Regions from separate parts of the Homo sapiens genome. Here region 1 is linked to region 2. The links come from fine-mapping of genetic effects on gene expression. A gene starts in region 2. The other region holds a variant in brackets. All regions are shown on one strand. Distances are between the middles of the regions.

The links. PIP is the estimated chance that this variant, and not a neighbour inherited with it, causes the effect. A credible set is the group of variants that fine-mapping cannot tell apart.
Region 1: its variant is the best candidate, but not a certain one, in a credible set for the expression of RNF207 in tibial artery (GTEx, PIP 0.86).

What each region holds. Positions count from the first base shown.
Region 1 is chr1:6,325,057-6,333,377 of GRCh38, forward strand. ACOT7 (acyl-CoA thioesterase 7) reads right to left here. Exons shown (of 9, transcript NM_007274.4): 5 at 2,243-2,357. Among named protein-coding and RNA genes, the nearest start is that of ACOT7, 65 kb to the right of the region's middle. The variant A/G (reference allele first, on the strand shown) is at 3,666.
Region 2 is chr1:6,202,287-6,210,607 of GRCh38, forward strand. It overlaps RNF207 (ring finger protein 207), which reads left to right and starts at 3,833. Exons shown (of 18, transcript NM_207396.3): 1 at 3,833-4,016; 2 at 4,250-4,440; 3 at 5,093-5,225; 4 at 6,595-6,739; 5 at 6,829-6,910; 6 at 6,982-7,057; 7 at 7,128-7,253; 8 at 7,638-7,684; 9 at 7,937-8,009; 10 at 8,084-8,152. The coding sequence starts at 4,250. It overlaps RNF207-AS1 (RNF207 antisense RNA 1), which reads right to left and starts at 3,494. Exons shown (of 3, transcript NR_125997.1): 1 at 3,468-3,494; 2 at 2,920-3,127; 3 at 2,554-2,696. RefSeq lists silencers at 2,863-3,157, 4,106-4,275, 6,423-6,717, 6,762-6,831 and enhancers at 3,209-4,028, 3,676-3,905.

The DNA of each region.
Region 1 (8,321 bases), 120 kb after region 2:
TCTGGTGTATTGCTGTGTTGATAAACTGGCTGTTTAAATTTTATTTTTAAAAGATATCTCAGCCGGGCGCAGTGGCTCACGTCTGTAATCCCAGCTCTTTGGGAGGCCGAGGTGGGCGGATCACGAGGTCAGGAGATCGAGACCATCCTGGCTAATACGGTGAAACCCCATCTCTACTAAAAATACAAAAAATAAGTGGGGCATGGTGGCGGGCGCCTGTAGTCCCAGCTACTGGGGAGGCTGAGGCAGGAGAATGGCGTGAACCCGGGAGGCAGAGCTTGCAGTGAGCTGAGATCGCGCCACTGCACTCCAGCCAGGAGGATAGAGCGAGATTCTGCCTCAAATTAAAAAAAAAAAAAGATATCTCTTTACTGGGGTTTCATCAAAGCAGCACCATTCTTTCTATTAATACTGACACATTAATTTTCTTTCTTTCTTTTTTTGGTGTTTGTTAAAAAGCAGACATGAAAAGAGAGGAAACCTACAGTGGTTTCCCCAACAGTAAAGAAACCGACCTACCCAGTCCCACTGGCCTAAGGTGACAACCAGTCCGCTTTTGGCAAGTTGAGGCTGGAGCACAGACTGAGTCAGAGACACACATGTGAGACCAAATACACACAAACTCCTGTTCAAGCCTCAAGTTGACCCGCCCAGAAAACAAGCACACTCCTGCTGCATGCCAGCAGCCAAGCCCAGAAAGCCATGCTCTCATCTGTGCGCCCACTGGGTTTTCACCAGTCCCCTTTGGTGCTTATGTGGACTAAGCAAGGGAGGTGAGCGGCCATAACAATGCCCCGAGTCCAGGTTAGCAGGGGCCAGGGCGCCTCTCGGCAGGGCTAGGAGCAGGTGGACCCCAGAGTGGAGCCCACATCACAGGCACATCCAAGGGGGAAAGGGATTACTTGAGGCAGGTCCTCCACCACTGCTGAGGGTGGAGGCAAAACAGAGAAAGCTGAGTAAGAAACTCAAACACCCACCATGACCAGGGTCTCCCAAGGCATGGTGGGGGGCAGCAAACCCTCCTCAGGCTGCCATCCCGCATGAGGTACCCTGTGGAACCCAGCACAGAGCACGAATGTGCCACGAGCCCAGGCCATCGCAGGGAGGCAGAGAAGCACACAGTGCGTCCTGGAGGGAGTTCTCCTGCCACTACGACAACATGACCACCATGTGTGCAGTAGGGAGAGGGGTAATGCTCGTTGCCTGCCCCCGAGGGCTCACCCTTTTCCTAGGGGGACAGATGCTCCCCAGGGCCCCCTGCCCTGAATTGTTTCTAGGAACGCGGGGAGTTCTCTGGGTAGAAAGTCCTTGCTTGAGGCAAAACATCTCATCGTGCCTTCGTTTAGATTTTGAGTGAACATTTTGTTAAAGCCAGAGCACCCTGACATGAGAGCAAGAGGATGGATGGCAGAAGGGACCAACACCACAGGGAAACTGGGCATGCCACAGAGCCCAGTGCCTACTGGCAGAGCCCCTCCTCCAATCAATGTCTGAACAGTGGGGCCGGGAAGAAGTGGCGCTTGAACAGCTGCTGCCGTTTTTTTCTTTTTTGGATGAGTTGGAAATCCCATCAAGAACAAGCCACTTGGCCAGGTGTGGTGGTTCACACATGTAATCTCAGCACTTTGGGAGGCCAAGGCAGGCTCATCACTTGAGGTCAGGAGTTAGAGACCAGCCTGGCCAATATGGTGAAACCCCATCTCTACTAAAAATACAAAAATTAGCCGGGCATGGTGGCACATGCCTGTAATTGTAATACCAGCTACTCGGGAGGCTGAGGCAGGAGAATCACTTGAACCCAGGAGGCAGAGGCTGCAGTGAGCCAAGATTGTGCCAGTGCACTCCAGCTTGTGTGACATAGCAAGACTCCAACTCAAAAAAAAAAAAAAAAGAAAAGAACAAGCCACTGAGCGAACACAAGGAAAAGATACAACAAAAACAAATTCCTTGTGAACAGGTGCACACCACCTGCCTGGCAATGGAGGCCCCACGCACAGTGCCCTCTGGGACTCCCTGAGTCACGCAGGTCGCCTTCCAGGTGTGTGACTGGAGGGGTCTACATGGCTCAGGGCGGGGCTGGGGGACAGCCCTCCCTGGGGACCCCAGAGAAACTGGTTCCCGGAGAGCATGCTCAGCACCTGGGGAACCTCAAGCATGAGGCTCACGTAGGCCCGGCCTGCTCCTGCCTCCTATGCGTCCCCGGTGAGGAGTGGCACCTGCTGCTGGTGTCCGCGGCTCTTACCTGGGTTGAGGACTGGCTGGACGATGTCCCCGTTCCTCCACTTGGTCTCCATGCGCTCCAGCTTCTGGGCTTCATACCGCTTCCGGCCCTCCTCCTCCTGCTCCTGCCGGGAATACTGCGAGAAACCAAAGACAGGTCAGGCCCAGGCAGGACACGGCCTCCTCCCCTCGCTGGGCGGCCATGATCCCAGGCCCTTATAGCCTTGTGTAACTGGGACTATTTTTTCTTCTGTTCATGTGTGTTTTAATATAAGTAATAAGAATACAGAAACAGTGAAATCCCATGTGGCTCCACTCCCCAGAGAGACAACCTGGGTCAAGTGTTTGGTTTAGATCCTTCCTGGAATTGCTTTAATGCCTACAAATATATAAAAAGCTCTATGGTGCTGTATGTGGAGCTTAAAAGCAACCGTGTATCTATTTAACGTAATTTTTGTAACTATGTGGGCACTTAGCTTGTTCCCAATTTTTCTTTACTTTTCTTTTCTTTGTTTTTGAGATGGAGTCTCGCTCTGTCCCAGGCTGAAGTGCAGTGGCGTGATCTCAGCTCACTGCAACCTCTGCCTCCCGGGTTCAAGTGATTCTCCTGCCTCAGCCTCCCCGGTACCTGGGACGACAGGTGCCCGCCACCATGCCCGGCTAATTTTTGTATTTTTAGTAGAGATGGGGTTTCACGATGTTGGCCAGGCTCATCTTGATCTCTTGACCTTGCGATCTGCCCGCCTCAGCCTCCCAAAGTGCTGGGATTACAGGCGTGAGCCACCGTGCCCGGCCCCCGCTTTTTCACTATTAAAACCATACTGATCCTAGGTTACTTAAAATCATTTTGCACTGTCCCATTGCTTCCTAGGATTCATTACAGAATAAAGGGATCCTCAAAAAGGCCCCACCCACTCTCCAAAGTCCATGACAGAGCAGGAACCCTGTGTGTCCCTGCTGACCCTTGGCCAATCAAACAGGTTATATATTGGTAGAGAATGGGCAGTAAAAGATGGAACTGTCCTCCCACGGCTCTCCAAATGAATCACAGGGGTTTTGACTCCAGAAGTTAAAAATAAATGTGACTATAAGACTCAGCACAGGCCGGGCATGGTGGCTCGTGCCTGTAATCCCAGCAATTTGGGAGGCTGAGGCGGGTGGATCACTTGAGGTCAGGAGTTCGAGACTAGCCTGGCCAACATGGTGAAACCCCTGGCCAACATGGTGAAACCCCGCCTCTACTAAAAATACCAAAATTAGCCAGGGGTGGTGGTGGGCACCTGTAGTCTTAGCCACTCGGGAGGCTGAGGCAAGGGAATCGCTTGAATCCGGGAGATGGAGGTTGCAGTGAGCCGAGATTGCGCCACTGCACTCCAGCCTGGGCGACAGAGCGAGACTCCGTCTAAAAAAATAAATAAATAAATAAAAAACACCAACAACTCAGC[A/G]CAAAAGCCAAAGCTCCTGAGTCCCGGGACACAGCAGGGGGATACTGCATTTCTTGGACGTAACAGACGGTTCACTCACTGCCCTGCTGTGCACACTGGAGGGGATGCACCACACTCGGATGGGACCCTCGGAGGGGCCCTCGGGGCCTGTGTGCTGGCCGCAGGCTGGTTCCAGACCCTCTGCCTGCTCCATCCCCCACGACCTTCTCCCTCCCCCTTGGCCTGGCCAGGGGCCGACTACCACCTGGCTGTTCTGATTAGCCTCCACTTCTGCTCTCACATTCACTCAACCAACCATTCCAGCTGAGCTTGTGGGGAAGCCACGGAACTCAGGGCCCCTCTGGGCCCCTCGGCCGCCTGTTGAAGCCCCTCTGACCTAAGCAAGTTCACTTCAGACGGCTGTGTTAGGCCTTCTTTCAAAAGCCAGTTTTAAACATCTCGATAATTCCTGCTCATGGCTCAGCTCCAAAATTGTGCAGGGTCTCAGCACCATTCACCGTTCCTCGGCGTAACTACCCATCATCTTCAGTTGAGAACCCATCTTCAAAAGAGGCTGAGAAGGGAGCTGAAGCGTTTGTTCAAAAGAAGCAAACTGTGGGGAGTGTTTTAAGTTGCAGTGGATAATTCAACCTTTTCCTCCATAAATAAACCACGTCCTAATGTTCCACCGGCCAAGTAACGACTGTGAGAAGAGAGTCTGTGCTGTGTATCTACCTAGGAACATTGGTGGGTGAACTTCAGCATCCTCAAGAGATGCCTTTTAAAGGGATTTTTTTTTTTAAAGGAGCCAGCCCCCGGTCTAATAAATCCTCATGGTATCCAGTACATTTGTCTGGGCTTGGCAGGCGCACAGGGAAATGATGGGGCCCAGTCCTGGACACAAGCCATGAGGAGAAGCCCAGCCTCCTCCCCAATGCTGCCTTTCCATCTGGGAACAAAACCGCTGGAACATTTTAATGATGGCTGGCACCTAACTCTCACCCCCGAGAGCTCATCAAACCCAACTGATCTGAAGCAGCAGACAGCGTGGCCCAAATATCTGAGAGACAGGCTGTGAACCTCTTCGCTAGAGCACATATTCAGACATTTGAAAAAAACCAAAGCATCCACCCCCGACAGCCACTCAGCCTGTCCAGGGCTGCGGCTGCCCCTCTGGTCATCCTGGGGCCCCTCGGGCCCATCACAGGCCCACCGAGGTTCCCTGCTCACTGGGAAAGCTGCAGGCAGGCTGGGGAGGAAGGTGGAGCAAAGAAAAGACATCCTGCGCTAGACGACTGTGCGCATGGCCGGCAGCTGGGTTCCTCCAGGGAGACGCACACATCCAGGAAACCAGTGTGTGTGTGTGGTGTGTGTGTGTGTGTGCGTGTTCAAGATATCTACATGCATACGTATGTGACATCTCTATTTGTATGTGTATATATAATATATATCTGTATATCTATACATACAGGGACGTACATTTTCCTAAATCGGGGATGGCTGTCTGTAGAAAGGTCAGCGGGAGCATGCTCATGCAATATAAGACAGCCCTGTGGCCAGGCCACCAGCAGATGGGCATAAATGCCCATCGGAGCCAGGGAAGGAAGCTGTACTTTCTGGGATTCCTAAGCAGGCCTCTGGCCGGGCCCACCAGTGAAAAACAGGAGACCTAGATTCCAAATCAGTGGGAGGTTTATACTACGTGGGCCTAGCGTGTGTTGGGGGGAAGATGGTGCAAAGAGCTCTGAACAACAGCTGCAGCTGAGAACCGTGCAGCCTCTCCCATCTGCGGCTCCGGCTGCCTCGGAGCCATGGAATGGTTTCAACAACTCCTCGACAAGGCCAAGTTGGTATTTATGTCTCATCAAACCCACTCTACAAAGGAAATGAAAAAGCAACTGGGAGCTCCTCCAGGATGTGGGAGGGAGGGAGCTAATTACTGGGCAAGGAGAGGCGAGGCTAACAGGGGCCACGCTGAAAGCACCCTGTCCCTGCAGCGAGGGGATGGGAGCCAGGGGAGTCAGAAGCTACCCGTCCCCTCCACTGGCCAAAAACCCAACAGCTCTTGGCGCATCGATCCTAAGCGACAAGGCAGCAAAAGTGACTGTGTTCAGGTCCAGGCCCGCCCCTCGGTATCACCCGCCTGAGATGCACCATCAGATGCTGAAGCCAGGCATGGGGCCTGGGAGAGATTTCAGAACTGGGTAGCATCTGAAAATTAAATCCGTTAAATGCTATGTCTCAATATTTACATGTGATGTGGCTCACTGAACGCCAAGGGCTTAGAGAAAAGAATGAACGTGGGGTGGGTGTGCTTGCAATTCTGCGGAGAACAGCCAGGAGCCCCCATCTGACCCCTGCTCCTTAGGTCTTCAATCACCCCCAAGTTAGCACTGCTGAAAATGACCACAACTTCCATCTCAGCCAAGAAGCAGGGAGAGAACAGCCCCACAAGAACAAGAGACGGGAGAGGTTGTTGAACCGAGGGCTGGTGCAGTGGGTTGAACAGCATCCCTCAAAATGTATATCCACCTGAAACCTCAAAATGCAAATGCTCCAAAAACCAGGTCTTTGTAGTTGTAAACAGTTAGAATGAGGTCACAGCAGAATGGGACGGGCCCTGAGCCCAGTGACCCGTACTCCGGTAAGCAGGCCGTGCGAAGATGGAGGCAGAAGCTTCAGTGACGCAGCCTCAGCCAAGGGACGCCTGGAGCCACCCGGCGCTGGAGACGCCAGGAGGGATCCTCGCCTGGGGCCAATGGAGGGCGCAGGGCCTTGCCCATACCTTTGCACTTCTGGCCTCCAGAACTGTGACAGAATCAACTTCTATTGTTTGAGAGCTACCCAGTCAGTGGCACTTTGTCACAGCAGCCCCGGGACACTGTCAGGTGGGAATATGAGACCTCGGACTCCACACCCCGACCCTGAGCCCCCGCCCACTGGCCAGATTCTGGCATGCTGCCATCCTGCTCTCATAAAACCAAAGGTGCAGCCACCAGCCTGCCCTTCCCATTAAATATGGACAGGGCTCCCCTGTCACCAAGATTAAAAAAAAACAAAACCTAGGCCAAACAGCAGCTGGACCCGGCAGCCAGCCACACCCACCTGGGGAGACACCCCACCCAGACCTTCACTGCCCTCTGAGGAGACCCTGGCAGGGTGCCTGGTCAGACACGGAGCTGGGGACAGAAGAGACGGCAGGAAGCAGGTCTCAAGGAGCACCTCCCCAGTCTCACATGGGCAGTGGCAGCAGGGACCGAGGCCCCATCAGCCCTGGTGACCGGGGGGCCACGGGAAGATGGAGAGCCAGGCCTCCTACAGGCGGGAAGTGGCCTGCACCCGGCAAACGCTGGGGAGGGAACCAAGGCTGCCGGCAGCGGCAAGAGCACCCAGCGTCTCTATTGGGTCTGGAAGCAAAAAGAGCAGGCACCAATTCCTGACAATCTGGTTCTCAGTTTTATTATTTCTAAAAATGTATTCTATATATATATCTCAGCCGGAGGAAAAGCTCCCTGCCGGGGCCCACACTGCAGAGACTCAGAATCCTGGTTCCTTCCCTCTAAGAAGAGCTCTTCCTGGGGGCTGTGGCCTGTGGACCGCAGGGTCAGGCTGCGGGAGGAGCTGGTCACATCTGTCCTTGGACTTGCCAATGAACTTGGGGCACAGGAGAAGGAGGCGAGGGAGTACTTTTAGGCAACGAATTAAATTTCTTTATTCCCAACGTCTCCCCTCCAGGAGTCTGTATGTGTGGCTTCCACAGGCTTCGCCCACAGGCCCGCCCATGGCAGGACCCCTCTGACAACATAATGAACTGGTATTATGAAAGGTGCTTCTGCCGGGCGCAGTGGTTCACACCTGTAATCCCAGCACTTTGGGAGGCCGAGGTGGGTGGATCATGAGGTCAGGAGATCAAGACCATCCTGGCTAACATGGAGAAATCCCGTCTCTACTAAAAAATATATATAAAATAATTAGCTGGGTGTGGTGGCGGGCGCCTGTAGTCCCAGCTACTCAGGAGGCTGAGGCAGGAGAATGGCGTGAACGTGGGAGGCGGAGCTTGCAGTGAGCCGAGATCGCGCCACTGCACTCCAGCCTGGGCAACAGAGCAAGATTCCGTCTCAAAAAAACAAAAAAAAACAAAAAAAACAAAAAGAAAGAAAGAAAGAAAGATGCTTCCAACCACAGCGAAGCCAGAAATGAGAGAAACACAGAGAAGGAGACAGACCCCAGCAGGGGACAAGAAGGGAGAAAGACAAAAGCTCATATGACAACTGTTTCCACAGCCACTGCGTCAGAAGCAGAGATCAGAACCAGCTTGCAGGGGCCACGGGGGAACAGCTGGCCCGGCCCCCGCAGCCTGGTGGTCCTGGCTCCCGAAAGGACATGTCACTATCACGATCCTGTCACCGTCTTTTCTCTGGTTAGGGAGTGTGACAAAAAGGTCCCTAGGTTGGAGGGATGTTTATGTCCACGGGTTCTGGGCCAGCTTGCGCTCACATTCCCAGCATGAATTAAACATACATTAGAAGATCCCACACAGACATGTCTCCTCCCCACCCGTGTTTCCTCGGAGGCAGGACAGAAACTCCTGTGGAGCCAGGGATGCCCTGCCCAGCCCAGAGGGGACACTGCCTGCTGGCGGACCTGGCCCCCTGTGCCCTAGCTCTGGCCTGTTGC
Region 2 (8,321 bases):
GCCTCTCAAGTAGCTGGGACTACAAGCACGAGCCACCATGCCCAGCTAAGTTTTAGTATTTTTTATAGAGGGGGGAGTCTTGCTATGTTGCCCAAGCTGGTCTTGAACTCCTGGGCTCAAGAGATTCACCCACGCTGGCCTCCCAAAGTGCTGGGATTACGGGTGTGGGCCACTGCGCCCAGCCTTCCTGGCTTTTCTTAATTTCTTATCCTCTGGGGGTCTCAAGCTCAGTTCCCCCTCTCTGCTCATGGTTACCTAGTGTGGTCCTCAGCTCGAGCCCCTCCCAACTGCCCTCCATCTCATCATCCTTATTTATTTATTTAATTTTTTAGGCGGAATCTCACTCTGTCACCCAAGCCGGAGTGCAGTGGCGCCATCTCGATTCTCCTGCCTCAGCCTCGCAAGAGTAGCTGGGATTACAGGCATGCACCACTACACCCAGCTAATTTTTCCTTTTTTTCCTTTTTTTTTTTTTTTTTTTTTTTTTTTGAGACAGAGGTCTCACTCTGTCACTCAGGCTGGAGTGCAATGGCGCAATCTCGGCTCACTGCAACCTCCACCTGCCAGGTTCAAGCAATTTTCCTGCCTCAGCCTCCGAAGTAGCTGGGACTCCAGGTGCGTGCCACCATGCCTGGCTAATTTTTTGTACTTTTAGTAGAGACAGGGTTTCACCATGCTGGCCAGGCTGGTCTCGAACTCCTGACCTCGTGATCCACCCGCCTCGGCCTCCCAAAGTGCTGGGATAACAGGCATGATCCATCGTGCCCAGCTAATTTTTGTATTTTTAGTAGAGACGGGTTTTCACTATGTTGGCCAGGTTGGTCTCGAACTCCTGACTTCAGGTGATCCGCCCACCTCAGCCTCCCAAAGTGCTGAGATTACAGGTGTGAGCCACGGCACCCGGCCTATCATCCTTATGATTTTCTTCCAAGCAGTTAATGCAGCCTGTCATTATTTGTTAATCTGTGTACTTGACTAACCTTGGCTGGTGTGTTCCCTTCTATGTGCCCATGGTAGATGCTCTGTAAATACTAGTTGAACAGATGCAGACATGAATGAATGGATGAATGAAGCACTCACCTCCTACCGGGAAACTAATGCATCATTCCTTAACAAAGCACCTACGCGGTTTTGTATACCAGCTCCACCACTTTCTGGGGTAATATTTTCTACTTTTTAAGAGTGTTCTCCAGATTAAATGAGTTAATATAAGTTAAACAGCTTAGAATAAAATATTGGCCCATATCTCCCCACCCTCCCTCCCCTTGTACAAAAAAAAAAAAAAAAGGCCCGGTGTGGTGGCTCACGCCTGTAATCCCAGCACTTTGGGAGGCAGAGGCGGGCAGGTCACCTGAGGTCGGGAGTTCGAGACCAGCCTGACCAACATGGAGAAACCCCGTCTCTACTAAAAATACAAAATCAGCCAGGCGCGGTGGCACATGCCTATAATCCCAGCTACTCGGGAGGCTGAGGCAGGAGAATCGCTTGAACCCGGGAGGCGGAGGTTGTGGTGAGCTGAGATGGCGCCATTGCACTCCAGCCTGGGCAACAAGAGCAAAACTCCATCTCAAAAAAAAAAAAAAAAAAAGAATCTTGGCCCATAAAAGAATGTTGGCCTATAAACACATAAACATTAGCCATTGCTACTACTGTCATTATGATTTGGTCCACAAATAGAACCAGGGCTAGGGACCGGGCATGGTGGCTCACGCCTGTAATCCCAGCACTTTGGGAGGCCAAGGTGGGGCGGATCACGAGGTCAGGAGATCGAGACCATCCTGTGAATGGTGAAACCCTGTCTCTACTAAAAATACAAAAAATTAGCCGGCCGTGGTGGCGGGCACCTGTAGTCCCAGCTACTCGGGAGGCTGAGGCAGGAGAATGGCGTGAACCCAGGAGGCGGAGCTTGCAGTGAGCCGAGATTGCGCCACTGCACTCCAGCCTGGGTGACAGAATGAGACTCAGTCTCAAAAAAAAAAAAAAGAACCAGGGCTAGGGACAGTCCTCAAAAGAACAGCTAGTTTCTCTCTAGAATTCACTTCCTTCTCCTAGCAAACTCCTACTCCTACGCATCCTTCAAAACCCAGCTCAAGGCCAGGCAAGGCGGCTCACGTCTGTAATCCCAGCAACTTTGGAAGGCCAAGGCAGGCAGAATGCTTGAGCCCAGGAGTTGGAGACCAGCCTGGGTAACACAGCAAAACCCCCGATGTGTGCAGCACATTGTACTTTTTATTTTTCTACTAAAAATACAAAAAAAAAAAAAAAAAAAAGGCTGGGTTCAGTGGCTCACACCTGTAATCCCAGCACTTTGGGAGGCCAAGGTGGGTGGATCACCTGAGGTCAGGAGTTCGAGACCAGCCTGGTCAACATGGTGAAACCCCGTCTCTACTAAAAATACAAAAAATTAGCCGGGCATGGTGGTGCGTGGTTGTAGTCCCAGCTACTTGGGAGGCTGAGGTGGAAGGAAGCCAAGGCTGCAGTTAGATATGATCACGCGGCGACAGAGTGAGATCCTGTCTTAAACAAAACAAAACGAAAACAGCTCAAATATCTCCGAGCTTTTTCTAAGCCTTTATTGAGCACTACTGTGGGTCAGGCTCTGGGCTTGACTTTGTAATCGCAAGAGGGGCAGAAACGGGCTGCTCTCAGGACACTCAGGAGAACACGGGCGGAGAAAGCTCACTGATCACGTCGACCTAGCAAGCGAGCGCACGCTGGAGAAAACGCTGGGATCAACACGCATCTGCCAGGCCCAGACGGCAGAGGGGGCACTGCTGGAAAGGCCGGGAACCTCCCCTCTCAACCTCCCACCCAAACCCATCCCTCTTTTGGGAACTTGGCAGGCAATGAGGATAGGGCCTTAATTAAGTGGACGCCCAGTATGTGTATTTCACGTGCGTTATTCCACTGGGGCCTCACCCATTATCAGGACACCAGTTCTATTTTAACCCAGCGCTGAGGCTCTGAGAGGTCAGTAACATGGCCAAGAGCTCACAACCAGCGAAAGGCAGGGCTGGGATTACAGGGCGTCTCACTCCGCCTCCCAAGCGCTGGAAAGTCGGTGGAGGGGCGTCCGCTGCTCTCTGGCGCCCCCAATTGGCCGCCGAGGAAATGAGGCGGCGATGACCTGTTCAGACCCAAATGGGATGGAAGAGTGGGGATTAGCGGGGGTAGGGGGTGGGGTTTGGACTCTTTTTTTTTTTTAAGACAGTCTGGCTCTGTAGCCCAGGCTGGAGTGCAGTGGCGCGATCTCGGCTCACTGCAACCTCCGCCTCCCGGGTTCAAGCAGTTCTGCCTCAGCCTCCCGAAGGGCGCCACCATGCCTGGCTAATTTTTGCATTTTTAGTAGAGACAGGGTTTCGCCATGTTGGCCAGGCTGGTCTCGAACTCCTGACCTCAAGCTATCTGCCCGCCTCGGCCTCCCAGAGTGCCGAGATTACAGGCGTGAGCCACCGCGCCCGGCCTACCCTTGAAGACCCCGCAGCCAAGGTCCTCCGGCCCCGCTCTGCGCGGCGCTCTGGTCTTGGGGCTCCGGACTCTGTCATGCCGGGCAGGGGCCAGTCCGATCCTTGCACCCTTGCCTGGCACCGTCCCTGGAGCCTTGGCGTCCTGGCCTCTCCTCCCCGCGGGCTGGAGGTGGAGTGGCCGGGCCGGAACCAGTGCGCAAAGCAGATGGCGAGCGCGGAGGTCGGTTCGGCCCCGCCGCGCCTCAAGGCAGCAGCCACCCTGGGGAAGGTGGATGCCGGAAGAGGCGTCGCCTGCGGGTCACCCAGAGGACACCCGGCGGGGAATTCCGAGGGTGGGAGTGAGGAGAGGTAGGAGAGGCCACGGCAGAGGGAGGCCCCGCGCAGAGTGGGAACCATCGCCCGGTGCGGGCCTGAACTTCCAGGGCCGGCTACTCCTCGGCAGAGCGACCGCGCGGTGTCTCAGAGCGCGGCCCGGAGCCGCACTAAGAGCGCTGGACGGCGGGAGAGAGGCTCGGAGGACCGGTAGCTCCCAGCAAAGCGGCCCAGCGGGTAGGTACAAGGCCCCGCCCCTCGCCAGTCCTCACTGCCTGTTCTCCCTGCGCCGGGGAGCTCCAGGCCCCAGCCCTAACCTGGGCCCTAGCGGCTCCCCACTCCATGACCTCTGGACGCCCAGTCGGGTCCAGGCGCGATAGGGAGGGCGCGGGCGCCCGGGCAGAGGGGCCGCGGGAGCTCAAGCGGGGCTCCGTGCGTGCCCCAGCCGCCCGCTTGCGCTGTCGCTGCAGATGTCGGGAGCTATCTTCGGGCCCCTGGAGGGCCCGAGCTCCCTGGATGCCCCGAGCATCCACCCGCTGGTGTGCCCGCTGTGCCACGTGCAGTACGAGCGCCCGTGTCTTCTGGACTGTTTCCACGACTTCTGTGCCGGCTGCCTGCGTGGCCGCGCGACCGACGGCCGCCTCACCTGCCCGCTGTGCCAGTAAGTGTCCCAAAGTTCCCCAAAACCCCCCAGACCCCATCCCCCGGGCCCAAGGTTGGCTCTGCCCGAGCTGGGACCCAGGTGCCAGGAGAGTAAGGCTCCAACTTCAGGCAGAACGACTGGGAGATACTGCACCCGGTCCTTAGCTCTCCCCGCCAGAAGTTGCAGGCTTCGGTCCATTTTATAGATCAGCTTAACTGAAGCCTGGAGATTGCAGTTACTGGCCCAAGACCTCCCATCAAAAGTCAGAGGGTAAGGGCGGGGCTCCAGCACTGGTCAGGACGCTCCCGGTTACTCGCTTGGGGGTCCTAGAAGTCTTAGGTCCACAAAACCACAGTTTCAGTTATGTGGGCTCAAGGAACCCAGGAGTGGCTCTGATTTGCCCAATGCCGTGAGAAGATGTCGAGGAGCAGCTTCTGCTTTTGATACTAGGGGACCAACCCCACTGTCTGCAGGAGTGCCCAGGACTGGGCAAGGGTAGGGACCAGGGCAGGGTGAGTGCTGGCTGTGATATTTATAGCAGACCCCAGAGCTGTGGTGCACCCCACCTCCCAACACAGCTATTTTTAGCTCCAGCCTGGAATGTGAGGGGTGGGGGTGGGGAGCCCTGGGGAAGGGGTATCAGAATCTCGGGGCCTGGGCTTCTCTGCAGACACCAGACGGTGCTGAAGGGTCCCAGCGGGCTCCCGCCGGTGGACCGGCTGCTGCAGTTCCTGGTGGACAGCTCAGGGGATGGCGTGGAGGCGGTGCGCTGTGCCAACTGTGACCTGGAGTGCAGCGAGCAGGCAGGGGCGGCAGGGCGGGTGGGTGAGGAGCAGAGGGTACCCGGTTGCACAGTCCCCAATGCTTGCACATGCACTCAGCATGTCTTCAGAGGACGACCTGGCAGTGGATTCTCCAGCACCTCCCTAGGGCACCTTGGCCCCAAATGTGAACCCCATTATACCGGTGGGGAGACTGAGGTCCAGAACAAGGGACTTGAGCCAGTGTCCAGACAGTGGCAGAGGCTAAGGCCATTCGATCTGGGGAGAGCTCACTGGTCCCCAATTCAGGGTGGAGTTGTGGACCTGCACAGGAGGGGCAGTCCAGTTTGCAGGCCTGGGCCGACCCTGAAGGGCCTCTGCTACCCAAGTGGCATAGAAGCAGCTACAGCCCAGGGGAGGTGGGGACAGCATGCTGTTCCCTCTGGGCTGTAAAAGGCACAGGGGACTCTGGCCTGCGGAGGCCAGAAAATGTATCGGGAATCCCAGGAGGACGGCCCGACTGGGGCAAAAGCTCCAGCGTTCTGGACAAGTGCTGAGCAATGTGTGACCCAGACGTACAGAGAGGATTAGCAGGAGGTAGGGACTGCAGGTAGGGCCTGTTATGTCCATCATTGCATGCGTCCATACCAGGGCTGCAGGCCAAGCCCTGGAATCCCAGCCCTGGGTCTGGCTTGGGGAGGAGAACCTTAAAGCCCTCACTGCTCTTCCCCTCCCCCCGCCCCCAAGTGTGACTCCAGATGGCCAGGGTGTACACCACCTTTCGGCCACTATTGAGTGTGCCAAGGGGGCCGTGAGAGGCCCTCACACCCTTTTGTTGCAGGTAAAAAAAAAAAAATTTTTTTTTTTGAGACGGATTCTTGCTTTATCGCCCAGGCTGGAGTGCAGTGGCGCCAACTTGACTCACAGCAACCTCTGCCTCCCGAGTTCAAGTGATTCTTCTGCCTCGGCCTCCCGAGGAGCTGGGACTCCAGGCGCCCGCCACCATGCCCAGCTAATTTTTGTATTTTTATTAGAGACAGGGTTTCGCCATGTTGGCCAGCTCCTGACCTCAGGTGATCCGCCCGCCTCGGCCTCCCAAATTGTTGGGATTACAGGCGTGAGCCACCGCGCCCGGCCTCGGTAAAATGTTTTATAAAGGCAGTTTCTGCCCTCTCCCCGCGTCCCCCACCCCCCTCCACGGACCTACTTACCCAGCCTCTGAGCCGCAGTGCCCTCCTCTGTAAAGTGGGTATATCAGAGCGCCAAGTGCCTGGATTACAGGAAAGGGCTGCGTTTAGCTGCGCACCCGGCCACGGCTGGGACAAACACGCGCAGTGACACGCGGCGGCTGCGGTTCCCGCGCTGGCCGCGGTCGGGCTCTGGCGCTCCTGAGCCCGCGCTCGGCCCGCAGGACGTGGAGACCACGTACTTCTGCAACACGTGCGGACAGCCCCTATGCGCGCGCTGCCGCGACGAGACGCACCGAGCACGCATGTTCGCGCGCCACGACATCGTGGCCCTGGGTCAGCGAAGCCGCGACGTGCCCCAGAAGTGCAGTGAGTGAGGCTTGCGGGGCCGGGGACTTGGGGGTGGGGGCGGGGCGGGCACTGACCGGAGCCCTCACCACCGCCCGCCGCCCCCGCAGCGCTGCACGCAGAGCCCTACCTCTTGTTCTCCACCGACAAGAAGTTGCTGTTGTGCATCCGCTGCTTCCGCGACATGCAGAAGTGCGTACAGGGGACGCGAGGGGAGGGGGCTGGGGGCCGCTGGAGCGGGCCTCACCCGCCGCCTTCTGCAGGGAGAGCCGGGCACACTGCGTGGACCTGGAATCGGCTTACGTGCAGGGCTGCGAGCGGCTGGAGCAGGCGGTGCTGGTGAGCGCAGGGGCCTGGCGCGCGGGGCCGCGCGGCGGCGATCGCGAGCCTGACCACGCCCTGTCCCCAGGCCGTGAAGGCCCTGCAGACGGCCACGCGGGAGGCCATCGCGCTGCTGCAGGCCATGGTGGAGGAGGTGCGGCACAGCGCCGCCGAGGAGGAGGACGCTATCCACGCCCTCTTCGGCAGCATGCAGGTGAGGGGTGGGGGTTGGGGGATAAACGACCCAGCCGGGACCTGGTGACACAGGGCTGGTCCCTTGCCCTTGTGGATTTCCAGTGTAGTGGGGCAGCAGGCCTTGCACCAAGCACTTTCCTGGAGTTGCTAGGAGAGCTGGGAGGGGAAACCAGGGCCTGCCGCAGGCTGGTGGTGGGGGTGTGAGGTGGTCAGGAAAGACTTCCCTGGGGAGGTGACATTTAAGGTGACGGGACCCAAGCCCTCACCAGGCAGCAGATGCAGGGCTGGTAGGTTGGAGAGATACCTAGTGTAACCAGCAGGTGGCTGGGGTCCGGGGGGTAGGCATGGTGGGAGGTGGCAGGGCTGGGGCGCAAATCAAGAGCATGCTCGCCATCTCTCCCAGGACAGGCTGGCAGAGAGGAAAGCGCTGCTGCTGCAGGCTGTGCAGAGGTGAGTTGGGGGGAGCGGGGCTTGCTTCCCTTACCCCTTGGCCTCCATGGCCTCAGCTCAGAGCCTGGGCAGGCCCTGCCCCACCCTGAGGAGCAAGACATCCGAATGTCCTCCCAGCTAAGGAGGGCAGCATGGCTCAGGGTGCAGAGAAGGGGTTCAGGGACGGACATGCGAAGCTGGAGGCGGGTGGGGGATGGAACTGCCCGGCCCTGCTCCTGGCCCCCTGGAAACCAGGCAGCCCCCCTCCCCCAGCCAATACGAAGAGAAGGACAAGGCCTTCAAGGAGCAGCTCTCTCACTTGGCCACCTTGCTGCCCACCCTGCAGGTACAGGGAGCTCGGGGTGCGGGTGGGTCCCTCCTCCTCCCCGGCCAGGCACTGAGCAGCATCCCCTCCCCCAGGTCCACCTGGTCATCTGCTCCTCCTTCCTCAGCTTGGCCAACAAGGCTGAGTTCCTGGACCTGGGCTATGTGAGTCTCCTCTGCTCCTGCAGATGCCCCCTCCCCACCAGGAGCCCACCCTGCAGACCAAAGCCACCAACTCAGGGGTGGGCAGCCTGTCACCTGGAGCCTGGACCAGGGATCTCGGGGCTGACCCCCTCCCAACTCCATCATCTGCAAACCTGTTAGGGTCACTGTT